2 separate regions of the Homo sapiens genome follow, and region 2 is linked to region 1. The links come from fine-mapping of genetic effects on gene expression. A gene starts in region 1. The other region holds a variant in brackets. All regions are shown on one strand. Distances are from middle to middle.

The links.
Region 2: its variant is fine-mapped to the expression of LINC00534 in whole blood (TOPMed, PIP 0.90).

The regions. Positions count from the first base shown.
Region 1 is chr8:90,218,160-90,226,506 of GRCh38, forward strand. It overlaps LINC00534 (long intergenic non-protein coding RNA 534), which reads left to right and starts at 3,329. Exons shown (of 4, transcript NR_051989.1): 1 at 3,329-3,587.
Region 2 is chr8:90,100,221-90,108,567 of GRCh38, forward strand. No RefSeq gene overlaps it. Among named protein-coding and RNA genes, the nearest start is that of CALB1, 22 kb to the left of the region's middle. The variant C/T (reference allele first, on the strand shown) is at 5,066.

The DNA.
Region 1 (8,347 bases):
ACATATAATTTACCAGCTTAATCATTTTAAGTCAGGAGTGTAAAGTACATTCACACTGGTGTGCAATCAAAATCCAGAACTCATTTCATCCTGCAAAGCTGAAACTCTACCCCTCTTAAACAACAACCCCTCATTCCAACCTCCTCTCAGCCCCACTGGCAAGTGCCTTTCTACTTTCTGTCTCTACAAATTTAACTACTCTAAATACCTCTTATAAAGCGAATCATACAATATTTGTGTTTTCATGACTGGCTTATTTCACTTAGCACAGTCTCCTCAAGGTTTATACGTATGTAGCATGCATTATAATTTCATTTTTTTAAGGCTGAATAATATTTCATTGTATATGTAGATGTATAGACTACCTTTTGTTTATCCATTTTCTCATCAATTGGGCACTTGGGTTATTTTTACCTTTTGACTAATGTGATTAATGCTTCTATGAGCATATTTGTACAAACATCTCTATTAGACACTACTTTAAATTATTTTAGTTATACACCCAGAAACAGAATTGCTGGATCATATGGTAATTTTATTTTTAATTTTCTGAGAAACTGCCATACTGTTTTCCATAGTGGCTATATCATTTTACTTTCCCATCAACAGTGCACAAAAGTTCCAATTTCTCCACATCCTCACCAACACTGTTATTCAAATGTAATGGCAAAATAGAAGCATTTTTCGCACACAAAAAGAATAATACAATTTATTGTCCACATAACTGAAGTAAAAGAACTATTAAAGTTTGTGCTTTAGCAATAAGACAGTGAACTCAGGATGAAGGTGAGGGTCTAAGAATTTCTGAGTTGAACTACAGTTTTAGAACATGTATTGGTAAATTTACTTTAACATTAATCATAAAAATATAAATACCCCTTTTTAAAAGGGAAAAACTAGAACTATGAGCAATAACAAGATTTTGTGGGAAGTGTTCAATGGATAGTTAAAGCATTCTATGGAAATTCTCAGGATAACAAAAGAGATAATGAGTAGCAACAGTCCTGTTGGAAAAATTTACATTTGGTAAAATTTATAAATGTAGCATCTATCTGTAAGTCTGTTCTTTTTATAGTTGAATATATCCGTTCATATGGACATACCATATTTTGCTTCTCCATTAACAAGTTGATAGACATTTCAGTAGTCTCCAAATTTTGGCTATTATGAATGATGCTGTTACGAACATTCATGCACAAGTCTTTGTCTGGACACAGATTCTCATTTTTCTTGAGTATAGATCTAAGAGTGAAATTACTGGGTTATATAGTAAATAATAATTTTTGAGTAAACGTAGCATTTCACATTCCCACCAGCAATGCATGAGAGTTCCAGTTCTTACATTCTCGTCAGTCCTTGTTATTATTAGTCTTTGTTTAGAGTGGGTTCTAAGTATATCTCTTTGTTGTTTTAATGTTAAATACACCCTTTCGAACTAGTAAAATCTTTGAGAAACTGTGACTCCTCCCTAGCTCTCTGGACTCCCAAAGCTTTAATCCACTGTTTAGTGTTCTTTTAACAATTATGATGTGGCTATAATTTATTCATTGATCAATTCATTCATTGATTCATTAACTCAACAGTGATAACTGAACATCTGCAATAGGTCAAGCGATATTCCAGGAATAAAAAACTGAATTAAATTGATTCCTGCTCTCAAGGACTTGACTAACCTAATTGGAAACATGGACCTAGACAGTAAGAATTAAAATACAATGTGGTAGATGCAAATAAAGTACAAAATGTTATTCAAGTTCTGATCTAGTCAAATCTTAATATGTCAAGGGCTTTCAGTTGCCATTTTCCTTGTCATGAGAACATCTTTCTAACATGCTCAGGGTTGATTTCTAATGGTAAGAGAATGAGGTTGGAATGAGATAGGAGCTGACTTCCAGTCAACACTGTGGGCTCCACATATCACTTTTCTTTAGTCCATTATCAGTGCTATTATCTAGTTCAGAACTTGATATGCTCAAAACACCCTAGTTTCTGTTCTTGCATCTTAAAGTAGAAAGATCAGATGCTATTTCCATTAGTTGTCCATCTAAGGATACCATATAGCTATTCCCTTGATAGATTTAGTTTCACCACCTTACATTGAATTTTTCTTAAGAAGGAAGCAACTAAAATAAACAAGAAGTTCAATCCTGAGATTCTGAGGGCAATGGCATTTGCAAGCAATTTGTGGCAGGTAAGAGAGCAGTCCATAAAGTACTTCCTCCTAGGATGTTCTTGTGATTTCTGCTCTAATATATCTCCCACCCCCAAAATGCATGCAAGTGCCTACACACACACACACACACACACACACTGCCACCACCTTCTCCACTTCCCTAAACCCAATGAATGACTAACTTGCACAACATTCATCCACAGATTTTAAATATGAATACAAAGAAGGGATTCTAGTGATTGATACTTTTCCTGACCTTTAGATAACAGTTAACTAAACCATTTTAAGCTGATGTTGACATAGCCTATTAAATATCTCTACAGCAGAAATTCTATAATCTGCATTGTTCAGAAGTCCTGAAGTCTATGATTTAATGTAAAAATAGACCAGAAATCTGAAGAATTTATACAATTTATATTTATAACACAGTTGACTTAGTTGAATGTGTCAGAACACAATATGTGTACATATAAAATTTTTGGTGAAGTATGCCATAAAATTATAATTTGTTCATTAATTTTACCAGTTCACAAACATTTCTTAGGTATGGGTAATATGTCAGGCTATATGCTAGTTATTGTGGATACATGGATAAGAAAAAGACAATCCTCATCTTAAAGGAACAAACTCATTGGAGATAGACCTGTAAACAAAGAATTACCACACACAGTAATAAACATAGGGGAAAAAGAAAAATTAATCATCAGGATAGGAATGAAGGAGTTTTAGGGAAGACTTCCAAAGAAATAGGTTTTTGAACTGTGTCTTAAATATTTGCTACTCACAAAGTGTGGTTTTCAAACTGGGGGTATTCGCCTTTTCCAGAAGCCTGTTAGAACTTCAGAATCTCAGATCCCATTCAGGACATACCAAATCAGGATCTCTATTTTAATAAGATCTCTGGTCATTTGTATGACATTAAATTTTAAGAAGGTTTGCTTTAAAGGATGGTGAAGAATTCCCAAGTAGGTTTGAAGGAAAGGAAAAATATTCTCCAGAAGTGGGAACGATACTTGTAAAGGGACTATCTTGGACAAGATTCTCCTCAGAAGCACACTCTGAGGCAAAGAGTTGAGTACAGCAGTTTATTTGGGAGGAAACACTAGTAGGGGAGTGGGAAGTGAGATAAGGAAGGGAAGAATGACTGTAAAGAGTGTCTTTTCTGGCAGATTACTTCTGTGAGCAACTGGGTCTCTCAGTTCTTTGGGAGCACCCTGGGAAACAGTGTGGCTATGACTTGGAGCTGCTCACCAGTTCCAGTCATTCTGTGGTTGAGAGCTGCTCCCTATGGATGTTAATTCTTCTCTATTTTAGATTTTCCACAGGTGTGGGCCCCATTAGCTCTGGCCACCTGAGAAAGCCCTCAGGCAAAGAGTCGCAGGTGAAAGCCAGCAGTTAGAGGTTCACAGAAATGGTGAGTGCTGAACGGATATGGGTGGGTATCAATGATGGCTGCTATAGAGATCAAGGCATGAAACGGGACTACAAGGTATACTCAAGGAATTGCTGGTTGTCTAGCATTCTGGGAGTGTAGGGAATAAGTGTGGAAGTATCAGGATCTAAGGGTGTCTAGATACATAACAGCCAAATCATGAAGGGCCGTGTGAGGAAGACATGCTAAGGAAGTTGGAACTTATTTTGCGGGCCACTAAATATTTAAAAAATAGAGTGTCATAGTAGAAATTTCATCTTTGGAAAGATTATTTTGCAGTCTAGAGGGTGGGACTTCAGTGAGACTGAAGACAGAGAGGCCAGTTAAGAACTCTATCATCTTGGATACAGCTTTTGTAGTTACGGTATCACCATTAGCTGACTGGATTAATTAATATCTCTATTGAGCTTCTGCTGTGTTTGCAGCATTTTGCAGGTAGCTGTGTGAGGTATATCAGGTATTTTCTTTAATTAATGAAAATAATCTGTTTAAAGTCTATTCAATATATTGGTGCTATTGCTGTATGTTAGTAAGTGTTGGTGTGTTTAAATTTTACATGATGTGTATATATCACAGGTCTTGAGTACGCTAGCTGATACCTAGTATCATTCTCTAAAAAACGACCAATAGTATTTTTCTTTTTCCTGAGAGCACAGGATGAAATTTAAGCTAATAATTTTCTTTTATACCAAAAAATTACCTTTATACAAATTTTTTAATACCAAAAGTTCCCATTCATTGGGAACTATATGTAGGTCCCCAGTGAATGAATATATTAATTATTCACCTTGCCCATGGACACTAGTCACATTTTATTTGCGACCATTGCCACATCTCATAGAATAGGAATTTCTTGATTATTGCTATATTCACTCATATCAAAGTGTTGCCTTCCATTTCTCTTAGCTAAGATAGGCAGAAAACTTTTTACTAAGCCAGATAAATAATGGCTCATGTACTAATCCTTGTGAAATTAAACAAAAAAATCTGTGAAATTAAAAAAAATTATGAAATTAAAAAAAAATGGAAAGAAATTCCTGCCATGTCACTTACTATCCCTAATCTTAATTTCAGTGTTGTATAGATGTGTGCTTCTAAAATGTCGTGTTTTTCACACTTCGTTTCAATCCTTGAACTCTATTGAAAAGCTTCATTATATATTCTCCATTACTGATCTCGTTATAAAAATTTGATGTTGCTTAAAATAACCATTTGCTTTATTAAGCCAAGCTTTGTTTACTTCTGTATCTGTTGAGATTAACCTCCCATCACCATCCTTATACATGTACCCTTTGATTATTCTCAGTATTGATATCTTGGTCTTCCAAGAGCTGTAAGTTTTTAATTCACAAAAGGAAGGAGGTTCTAGGATTCAACTAATGTGATGACTAGATTTGTATATGGTATTAAAGTATTAAAGGAGAGAATTTCTTCGCCCATAGCTTATCATTTATTTGAATGCAGAGAAAATTTACTGGGGAGATTCAAAATGATAAATTTGTCTATGTGGAATTCAATAAGCAAAATGCTGAAATAGAGTCTAAATCTTCCATCATCACTAAAGCTGTTTGATAAGAAATTTATCTCCTCTTGTCTGCTTTAGCTTGATCTAAGTTAAGTACTAATGAATCATGACCCAGTCTGTGTTCCTTTGTCCTCACATTTTACTTGCTGTGGCAAGGATTCAAAAGTGATTGATTAATGTCAAATAGGTTTTCGCTCTCTATTGGAAATCTTGCTGCAGTAACACATGCTTTTTTTGTTTTAAATTTATATAAGGCAACTTTCTCTATGGTGGGTACCGTAGAAGACTAGAAGTTTCTATTATAACACATTCATCATTTTGAAAAATGAAGGTGGCTGGCTGCAGTGGCTCACGCCTGTAATCCCAGCACTTTGGGAGGCCGAGGCGGGTGGATCACCTGAGGTCAGGAGTTCGAGACCAGCCTGGACAACATGGTGAAACCCTGTCTCTACTAAAAATACAAAATTAGCTGGGTGTGGTGGCGGGTGCCTGTAATCCCAGCTACTTGGGAGGCTGAGGCAGGAGAATAGCTTGCACCCAGGAGGCGAAGGTTGCAGTGAGTCGAGATCATGCCACGGCACTCTAGCCTGGACAACAGAACGAGACTCCGTCTCAAAAAAAAAAAAAAAAAGTGTGAAGCTATCTGAAGATTGACTCAATTGACCTGATGCAATGAGGAAGTCCACTAGAGGATTTAAGCAATAGGCCAAGTTTTCAATCAAATCTTAAAATAATTAAGTGACCTTAAAATTCTTGACTAAATTTCTGAGTGATCACTTGTGTATTCTCATCAAATGAGGTAGTTAAGAGACCTGAGGAAGAGAATACTTTTGGATCTGAGTTTCTGTCTGTTAAGTAAAAATGGATTTGTTGTATAATCTGAGTAAGCTGTTTACCATCTCAAGAGTCTCCATTAAGAAAAAAAATGTTAGATAGTGGACAACAATGCTCTCTTTATGAGGATTACATGGTGTAAAGTGACTGTCATGTGTCAAAGCTTCATAAATTGGGGAAATAGATAAATAACTGTGGATAGTTTTGCCTTTTTGTAAACAGATACTGATAAAAAGACCTAGAATAAAGGCTCTCTCTTTTAATAATTTCTGAATTTCTTGTAACTTTCCACTGCCTTTCACTCAAACTCCCCATTACTCCAGTTATGCAGCATTTATGCTGGGGGCTTTATGGGCTGCCATTGCTGCTGTGCATGCTTTTCCATTTAATTTTAAAGTTCCATTGTTCTAGGGCATTAGGATTGTTATCAGATTTCTTAAGGTCAAGGTCAGTGAGTCAAATATACTGGAGCATAAAACATTTTTTTCATCCTTTTAAAAGTCACATTTATTTTGAAAAGACCAGGAAACCCACCCATCTTTACCTCTCCTTAATGTTGATCCAATCTGAGCTTTAAATTTTTTACTTTTTGCAGCATGATTTGTAACATAGATGGCTAGCCTTAAATTTGGCCAAAAAAAAAAAAAAAAAGGGTTTCTTTTTTGCTTTTGCTGAAGCGAGCCCTTCTGGTCATCTATAGGTCAGCTCTTGTTGGTGAACTGATGACAGTGGAGGCACCTGCACTTTGGAAATAAACATTATATCAAAAGAAGTCAAGCAGCAAAGGTTAAACCAGAACATGGACCCTGTTGCTCACATGAGCCCCAGGCAGGCATTCTATAGAATCTGAGAAGCTAGTCTCTAGGGAGAGGCAGAACTTTGTGTTCTCGCCCAATCACTCTCCACTGCTGCTCAGGACAATGCAGACATGCCCTAGTGAAAGTCAGCTCTACCCACGCAAAGCGAGATAGGAGAACATTTTAGGGTGAAACTAGAAAATGATACATGAAGATAATTGCAAAAAATAAAGTGATTTTAAAGTTTTCTTTGGGGCATGGTCATCTGCATGGGGATATCTAGAACTGTGGCAGCCATCTGGAGACCTTGAAGCAAGTCAGTCTAAAAGCAGACACTTTGCTATGTCTTAAATCTCACTATTGGCAAAATGGAAAGAAGAAAAGCATCTATGTTTATTACTTCCACTGGTTTACTGAATTAACCAACATAACAAGAAAGGAGAGAGTTTCAGGAATTTTTGTATGTTAAAGAAGTGATTTTTAGATGTTAGCAACTATAAACTAAAGATGGTCCTTTGAGTTAGAGATAAAATAGAGCTTTTTGGTGACCTCCTTTGTAGTTGAATAACCACTACCTACACAGGATCTTCACTGAGGCAATTGGTTTTAAATATCACCTTTGAAGCCAACATTTCTCCTGTTAATTTACAATCTTTAGAGTGATAGGTAATTAAAAGGCTATAACAGGGAATGTGCTCACAGAATAAATATGAAACACCTTTGATACTGTGGTGCTAAAGGATAGATGAGAAAGTCTTCAGTCAGCTTCAGGTTTTCTCCCATTCGAATCATGAGGTTAGCATTTAATTAGTAAAGGGGTGGGACAATGTAACAGACTAGGTATCTAAAGACTCATTCTTTCCTTCACTTAGGAGAATTACTACCAGCCAATTATCCTTTTACAAAATGCTATTTATCTCATCTTCATGTATACATCTTAGAAATAAGGGAGGATGCTATGATTCATGCCTGTGATTTTGGTCTCTTGGTTTTAAAATTGCCCGTAAGTGTAGATGCTGTTATGATGTCACACTCACAAGAAACCTGAGTTTACCATCAAGACCCATTGTGAAAGCTTGACATTGTTATTCCAGCATTATCCAAAGTTATTATTTTTGTGAGGCAGGATGAAGCTGAATTGAACTAAAGAACTAGACATACTGTACAAAACCTGATGACTTTTTCTTGAAAGCTGACCCAGACTGCTACAAGCTCTTTAACTTTTGTAATTTAAAATTAATTTGAATGAAAAAATATTAGGAGCACTTGTTTCTGGCTATTTTGAACAAAGTCATTTCTTTTTGGAACATTAATGGCTCCAAGGTAGAAGGAGAAAAATGAGAACTTGCTTATGAGCTTATGGAAGAAACATTACGTTTTCAAAATGAGAACCCAAGGTAATTACTTCACTTGAGGAAAAAAGGGAGTATGGCACTTTGGCACATTCCACAAACCAATTAAATATTAGCAAAACAAGTAGCCTTAGAAATGACATTTCTTTATGTGGAATATATAAGCTCAGATTTTAGAGATAAATCTTATCTCAACACTTCTGTCTCTGCCTCCCTACTCCACTCCTATAAGTT
Region 2 (8,347 bases), 120 kb before region 1:
ATCGCTACCAGGAGTAGACTGATCTCAAGAAACTACTTTCTTTGCTCACCCATAAGAAGCAACTCCACATCTATTATAGTTTAATCATGAGATTGTAGCAATTCAGTCACATTTTTTTTTTTTTTTTTTCTGAGACAAGATCTTACTCTGTCACCCAGACTGGAGTGCAGTTACATGAACACAGCTCACTGCAGCCTCAGCCTCCTGGGCTCAAACAATCCTTCTGCCTCAGCCTCCTGAGCAGCTGGCACCATAGGCATGTGCCATTATGCATGCCTCATTTTTTGATTTTTGTAGAGATAGGGTCTCACTATGTTGCTCAAGATGGTCTTGAACTCTTGCCCTCAAGCAGTCCTCTTGCCTAGGCCTCCCAAAGTGCTGGGATTACAGGTGTGAGCCACTGCATCTGGCCAGGCTCCATTTCTAATTCTAGTTCTCTCGTTATTGTCATTATGTCTGCAGTTACTTCCTGCACTAGTCTTGAATCAAAGTCATCCACAGAGGTTGGAATCAACTTCTTTCAAATCCCTGTTAATGTGGATATTTTGACCTTCTACCATGAATCACAAATGTTTTTAATGGCATTTAGAATGGTGAATTCTTTCCAGAAAGTTTCAGTTTACTTTGTCCAGATTCATCAGAGGAATTATTATCTTTGGTAGCTATAGCATCATGAAATGTATTTCTTAAATAATAAGACTTGAAATTAGAAATTACTCCTTCATCCATGGGCTACAGAATTGTTGTGTTAGCAGACATGAAAACAAAATTAATCTCCATGTACATCTCCGTTAGAGCTCTTGAGAGCCCAGATGCATTGCCAATGAGCAGGAATTTTGAAAGGAATCATTTTTTTTTTTCAGAGCAGTAGGTCTCAACAGTGGGCTTAAAATATCCAGTAAACCATGCTGTAAACAGATGTGCTGTCATCCGGCTTTGTTTTCCATTTATTGAGCATAGGCAGAGTAGACTTAGGGCAATTCTTAAGGGCTCTAGAATTTTTGAAATCATAAAAGATGTAGACTTCAATTTAGAGCCACCAGATGCATTAGCCCTAAACAAGAGATTCAGACTGTTCTTTAAAGATTTGAAGCCAGTCATTGACTTCTCTCTAGCTATGAAAGTCCTAGATGGAATTTTCTCCCAATACTAGGCCATTTTGTCTACATTAAAAAAATCTGTTGTTGGCTGGGTACGGTGGCTTACGCCTATAATCCCAGCACTTTGGGAGGCTGAGGTGGGCGGATTGCCTGAGGTCAGGAGTTCGTGACCAGTCTGGCCAACATGGTGAACCCCATCTCTACTAAAAATACAAAAAAGTTAGCCAGGTTTGGTGGTGTACACCTGTAATCCCAGCTACTTGGGAGGCTGAGGCAGGGGAATTGCTTGAACCAGGGAGGTGGAGGTTGCAGTGAGCCAAGATCGTGCCACTGCACTACAGCCTGGGCGACAGAGCAAGACTCTGTCTCAAAAAAAAAAAAAAATTCTGTGTTTAGTGTATGCTTAGTGTAGCCACCTTTATCAATTATCTTAGTCAGATCTTTTGGATAACATTCTACAGCTTCTATATCAGCACTTCCTTCTTCACCTTATACTTTTATGTTATGATGATAGCTTCTTTCCTTAAACCTTATGAACCAACCTCTGTTATCCTCAGTCATTTCTTCTGCAGCTTCCTCACCTCTATCAGAATTCGTAGAAATGAAGAGAGTGAAGGCTTTGCTCTGGATTAGGCCTTGGCTTGAGGAAATGTTGTGGCTAGTTTGATCTTTTTATCCTGACCACCAAAATTTTTCCCGTACCAGAAACAAGGCTATTTAGATTTCTCATCGTTTGTGTTTTTCGTGGGAGTACCACTTTCAGTTTTCTTCAAAGCCTTTTCCTTTGCATTCACTACTTGACTACCTGGCACAAGAGGCCTGGCTTTCATCCTATCTCAGCTTTTGAAGTGCCTTCCTCACTAGGCTTACCCATTTTTAGCTTATGTTTTAAAGTAAGAGATGTGCAACTTTTTCTTCCACTTGAACACTTAGAGGCCATTATAGGGGTATTTTAATTGGCCTGATCTCGGTATTCTTGTGTCTCAGTGAATATGAAAGTATGAGGAGAGGTAGAGAGTTGGAGAAATAGCTGGTTGGTAGAGCAGTCAGAAGTCACACATTTATTGATTAAGTTTGTCATCTCAATTGCTTCTCGGCCTTTTGGCTAAGATCAAGAGTGAAGTTTACCATTGCATGTGGTGTGGTTTATGGTGCCCCCAAACAATTATGATAGTAACAGTAAAGATCATGGATCACCATAACAGACATAGTAATAATAAAGTTTGAAACATAGCAAGAGTTATCAAAATGTGGCACAGAGACACAAAGCTAGCACATGCTGTTAGAAAAAATGGTGCCAATAGACTTGCTCGGAGCAAAGTTGTCACAAACGTTTAATTAGTAAGAAGTGCAGGATCTGAGGCATGCAATAAATACAATAAAACAAGATATGCCTATATATACTAAAATGATTACTACAGTGAAACAAATTACATCATTTTTCTCACATAATTACCTTGTTGTGTGTATATGTGTGGTAAGAACACCTGAAATTTACTCTTTTGGTAAATTTTATTACACAATACAGTATTTATTAATTACAGTAATCATAGTTTACATTAGATTTCTAGACTTATTTATCCAACATAACTGTAACTTTGGACCCTTTGACCAACATCTCCCTATCCCCTTCCACTTATAACCACCATTATACTCTACTCTATGTATTCAGCATTTTTAGTTTCCACATATAAGTGACATCATGCAGTAGTTTTCTTTCTGTGTCTGGCTTATGTCACTTAACATAATGTCTTTCAGTTTCACTCATGTTGTTGCAAAGGGCAGGATCTTCTTTTTTTTTAATTTGAATAATATTCCATTGTGTGTGTATACATTATATTATATTTTATTACATTCAGCAATTTATCCATTCACCCATCAATGGACATTTAGGTTGTTTCCATATCCTGGCTATTGTGAATAATATTCCAATAAACATGCAAGTGCAAATATCTCTACAGAATGACAATTTCATTTCTTTTGGTTACATATTTACACCCTTTCTAACACTTATCTCTTGCCTGTTTGATAATATTCATTCTAATAGGTGTGAGGTGGTATCTCAGTGTGGTTTTGATTTGCATTTTCTTCATGATTAGTGGTGATGGGAATCTTCTCATACACCTCTGGGCCATTTGTATTTCTTCTCTCTATTCAGATTCTTTGTCTATTTTTTAATTGGATTATTTATTTTTATTTTTTGTTGAGTTGTATGAGGTCCTTATATTATCCTGGATATTATTCTTTTACTGGTTATATGGTTTGTAAATATTTTCTTCAAATATGTAGGTTGCCTTTTCATTTTGTCGATTTTTTTCTTTGATGAGCAGAAGATTTTTAGTTTGACATAGCCCCACTTATTTATTTTTGCTTCTGTGGCCTGAGGGTTTTTTGTGATATCTAAAAAATCATCACTGGACCAATGTCTGGAAGCTTTATTCCTATGCTTTCTTCTGGAAATCTTACAGTTTTCGGTCTTATGTTTAAGTTTTAAATTCATTTTGAGTTAATTTTTTGTGTATGGTATAAAATAAAGGTTCAAATTCATTCTTTTGCATGTGGCTATCCACTGTAGCCAACATCATTCTTTGAAAGATTATCCTTTCCCCATCGTGTATGTGTGGTGCCCTTGTTGAAAATTAGCTAACCATATATGTTTTGTTTTGTTTTTTGTCTCTCTGTGCCTGATTTATTTCACTTAGCATAATGTCTTCCAGTTTCATCCACGTTGCTGCACATGATGGGATTTCATTCTTTTTTATGTCTGAAAAATAGTCACTTTTTCTTTATTCATTCATCCATTGAAGGACACTTAGGTTGTTTCCATACCTTGGCTACTGTGAATAATGCTGCAATGAACATGGGAGTGCAGATGTCTCTTTCAGATCCCAGTTTCAATTTCTTTGGATATATACCCAGAACAGGGATTGCTGGATCATGGGAGTAGTTCTATTTTTAGTTTTTTGAAAAAATTCCATACTGTTTTCCATAATGTCTGTGCCAATTCACATTCTCACCATCCAGTTTACAAAGGTGTGCCTTTGTTCACATCCTTACCAATACTTATCATTTGACTTTTTGATAATCGCCATTCTTTTTTTTTTTTTTTTTTGATAATTGCCATTCTAATAGGTAAGAGATGATATCTCATTGTGGTTTTGATTTGCATTTCCCTGATGATTAGTGATGTTGATGACTTTTTTATATACCCTTTGGCCTTCTTTAGAGAAATGTCCATTCAGATTTTTGCCCATTAAAAAAAATATTTATCCTTCAACTTTTAAGTTCTGGGGTAGATGTGCAGGATGTGCAGGTTTGTGTTACCTTGGTAAACGTGTGCCTTGGTGATTTGCTGATACATCAACCCATATGGTTGGGTTTTTTTAGCTCTCTTTTCTGTTTCATTGATCTAAGTGTCTGTTTCTATATTGTTTTGCTTACTTAAAGCTTTGTTATATAATTTGAAATGAGAAAGTGTAATGATTCTAACTTAGTTCTTTCTCAAGATTATTTTGACTAAAAAAGGTATTTTACAGTTCATATGAATTTTAGAATTTTTTTCTATTTTTGTGAAAAAATACCATTGGAATTTTGATAGAGATTATGTTTTATTTGTATATTGCTTTGGGTTATATGGACATTTTAACAAGATTCATTCTTCTAATCCATAAACCTGGGATATATTTCCATTTACTTGTGCCTTCCTTAATTTCTTTTATCAAGGTTTTATAGTTTTCAGTGTACAGATATTTCACTTCTTTGATTTAATTTATCTTGAAACATTTTATTTTTGATGTATTTTAAGTGGGATTGTTTTCTGGATTTCTTTTTTGATTAGATCATTATTAGTGTAAAGAAAAGCAACTAATTTTTGTATATTGATTTTGCATTTTGCCACTTTACTGAATTTGTTTATTAGTTTCTATAGATTTTTATTTTTTTTGTAGAGTCTTTAGCATTTTCTA[C/T]GTATAAGATCATTTGCAAATGGGTAATTTTACTTCTTCCTTTCTGATTTGGATTATCTTTCTACACTGATTGCTCTTGCAATCCATTACTATGTTGACTAGAAGTGGTAATAGTAGGCATCCTTGCCTTTTACCAGATCTTGGAGGAAAAGCTTTTAAGTTTTTCCTCACTGATTATGACATCTCTGGCCTTTTCATAAATAGCCTTTATTGTGTTGCAGAAGTTTCCTTCCATATATATTTTATTTAGAGTTTTTGTTACATATGGGTGTTCAACTTTGTCAAATGCTTTCTATACCTATAAAGATAATCAAGGGGTTTTTTATGTTTCATTATGTTAATGCAATGTATCACTTTGATTAATTTGTGTATGTTCAACCAAACTTGCACCTTAGGGATAAATCCCACTTGGTTGTGGAGTATAATCTTTTTGATGTGTTCTTAAATTCAGTTTGTTAGTATTTTATTGAGGATTTTTGCATCCATGTTCACCAGATATATTGGCCTGTGGTTTTCTTTTATAATGTTGTTGTCTGGTTTTGGTGTTAGGGTAATGCTGGTCTCATAGAACAAGTTAAGAAATATTATTTTTGCTTCAATCCTCTGAAAGAGATTGTAGAGAATTCATACAATTTTTTTCCTTAATATTCCACAGAATTCACCAGTGAACTAATCAGGGCTTGGTCTTTTTGCTCTGGAAGGTTATTAATTATTGGTTCAATTTCTTTAATAAATAAAAGTCTATTCAGATCGTCTTTTTCTTGAGTGAGTTTTGTCAAATTGTGTCTTTTAAGGAATTGGTTCATTGGCTCAATCTAGATTACAAATTTATGAGCATACAGTTGTTCGTAGAATTCCCTTATTATTGCCAGGCGCGTTGGCTCACGCCTGTAATCCCAGCACTTTGGGAAGCTGAGGTGGGCGGATCACGAGGTCAGGAGATTGAGACCATCCTGGCCAACATGGTGAAACCCTGTCTCCACTAAAAATACAAAAAATTAGCCAGGCATGGTGGCGGGCGCCTGTAGTCCCAGCTACTCGGGAGGCTGAGGCAGGAGACTGGCGTGAACTCGAGAGGTGGAGGTTACAGTGAGCCAAGATCACGCCACTGCACTCCAGCCTGGGTGACAGAGCGAGACTCAGAAAAAAAAAAAAGAAAAAGAATTCCCTTATTATCCTTTTAATGTCCAGAGGATCTGTTGTCATGTCCCCTCTTTTATTTCTGATATTAGTAATTTGTGTTCTCTCTTTTTGTTTCTTAGTTAACCTGGCAAGAGTCATATTGATCTTATTGATCTTTTCAAAGAACTAGCTTTTGGTTTTGTTGAGCTTCTTTATGGATTTCCTCTTTTCAGTTCATTGATTTCTGCTCTCATTCTTATTGTTTATTTTCTCCCACTTTAGATCTAATTTGCTCTTCTTTTCCTAATTTCATAGGGTGAAAACTTAGATTATTTATTTTCTATTTTTCTTGCTTTTTACTATATGCATTGAATGCTATAAACTTCCCTCTATGCACTACTTTCATTGCATCTTAAAAATTTTGTTGTGTTTTCATTTTTATTTAGTTCCAAATGTTTTTAGATTTTTCTTGAGATTTCATCTGTGACCTATGTGTTATTAAAAACTATGGTAGCTCAGGCATAGTAGCACACACCTGTAATCCCAGCAATTTGGTAGGCCAAGGCAGAAGGATTGCTTGAACTCAGGAGTTCAGGACCAGCCTAGGCAACATGGTAAAACCCTGTCTGTACAAAAAACACAAAAAAATTGGCTGGGCATGGTGGTGTGCACCAGTAGTTCCAACTACTTGGGAGGCTGAGGTGAGAGAATTGCCTGAGCCCAGAAGGTCAAGGCTGCAATGAGCCATGATTGCACCACTGCACTCCAGCCTGGGCCACTGAGTGAGATCCTGTCTCAAAAGTAAATAAATAATAAATAAATAAATAAAAGAGGAGTATGTTAATTTCCACACATTTTTTATTTTCCTGTTATCTTTCTGTTATTGATTTCTAATTTAATTTTACCGTGGTCTGAGAGCAGACATTTCATGATTTCTGTTCCTTTACATTTGTTAAGATATGTTTCCTGGTGCAGAATGTGCTTTATATTTGTGTATGTTTCATGTGAGCTTCAAAGGAATGTGTATTTTGCTATTGTTAAATGAAGTCGTCTATAAATGTTGATTACATCAGTTAATTGATGATGGTGTTGAGTTCTACTATGTCCTTAATAATTTTTTTGTCTGCTGGATCTGTCCACTTCAAATAGAGGAATGTTGAAGTTTCCAACTATAATAGTGGATTCATTTATTTTTCCTTTCCTTGCATTTTCATCATTTTTTGCCTCATGTGGTTTGATGCTGTGTTGTTAGGCACATACCTATTAAAGATTGTTATATTTTCTTGCAGAATGACCCCTTGATCATTGTGTACTGCTCTTTATCCATGATAATTGTCCTTGCTTTGAAGTTTGCTCTGTCTTAAATTAATACAGCCACTCCTGATTTCTTTTGATTAGTGTTACATGTATATTTTTCTTCATCCTCTTACTTTTAATCTATATGTGTCTTTATATTCAAAGTGGGTTTCTTCCAGACAACATAGAGTTGGGCCTTTTTTTTTTTTGTCCACTCTGACAACATCTGTCTCTTAAACCATTGATGTTAAAGTGATTATTGATATAGTTGGATTAATATCTACATATCTGTTATTGTTTTCTATTTGTTGCCCTTGTTATTTGTTCCTTCTTTGCCTTCCATTCTTTTTCTGCCTTCTATAGTTTTAATTGAGAATTTTATATGACTTCATTTTCTCTCCTTCCTTAGCATATTAGTTAATACTTCTTTTTAAACTTTGTTTTTAGTGGTTGCCCTAGAGTTTTCCATATACATTGACAACAAATCCACATCCAGTTTCAATATACATTGACAACTAATCCACATCCACTTTCAAATAACACCATAGTGCTTTATAGATAGTGTGAGTACTTTATAGTAACAAAATAATCCTAATTCCTCCATTTGATTCCCAGATTCATTGTAGTCATTCAGTTCACATATATTAGCATGCATAAGTATATATATAAAAAGTGTACATAATTAGACACATTGTTGCTATTGTTATTTTGAACAAACATTTGTTAGACTAAGAAAATAACATGTTTATTTTACATTACTTATTCCTTCCTCAATGCTCTTCTATTCTATATGTAGATCTGAGTTTCTGACATATCATTTTCCTTCCCTCTGAAGAACTTAACATTTTTTGCAAGGCAGATGTA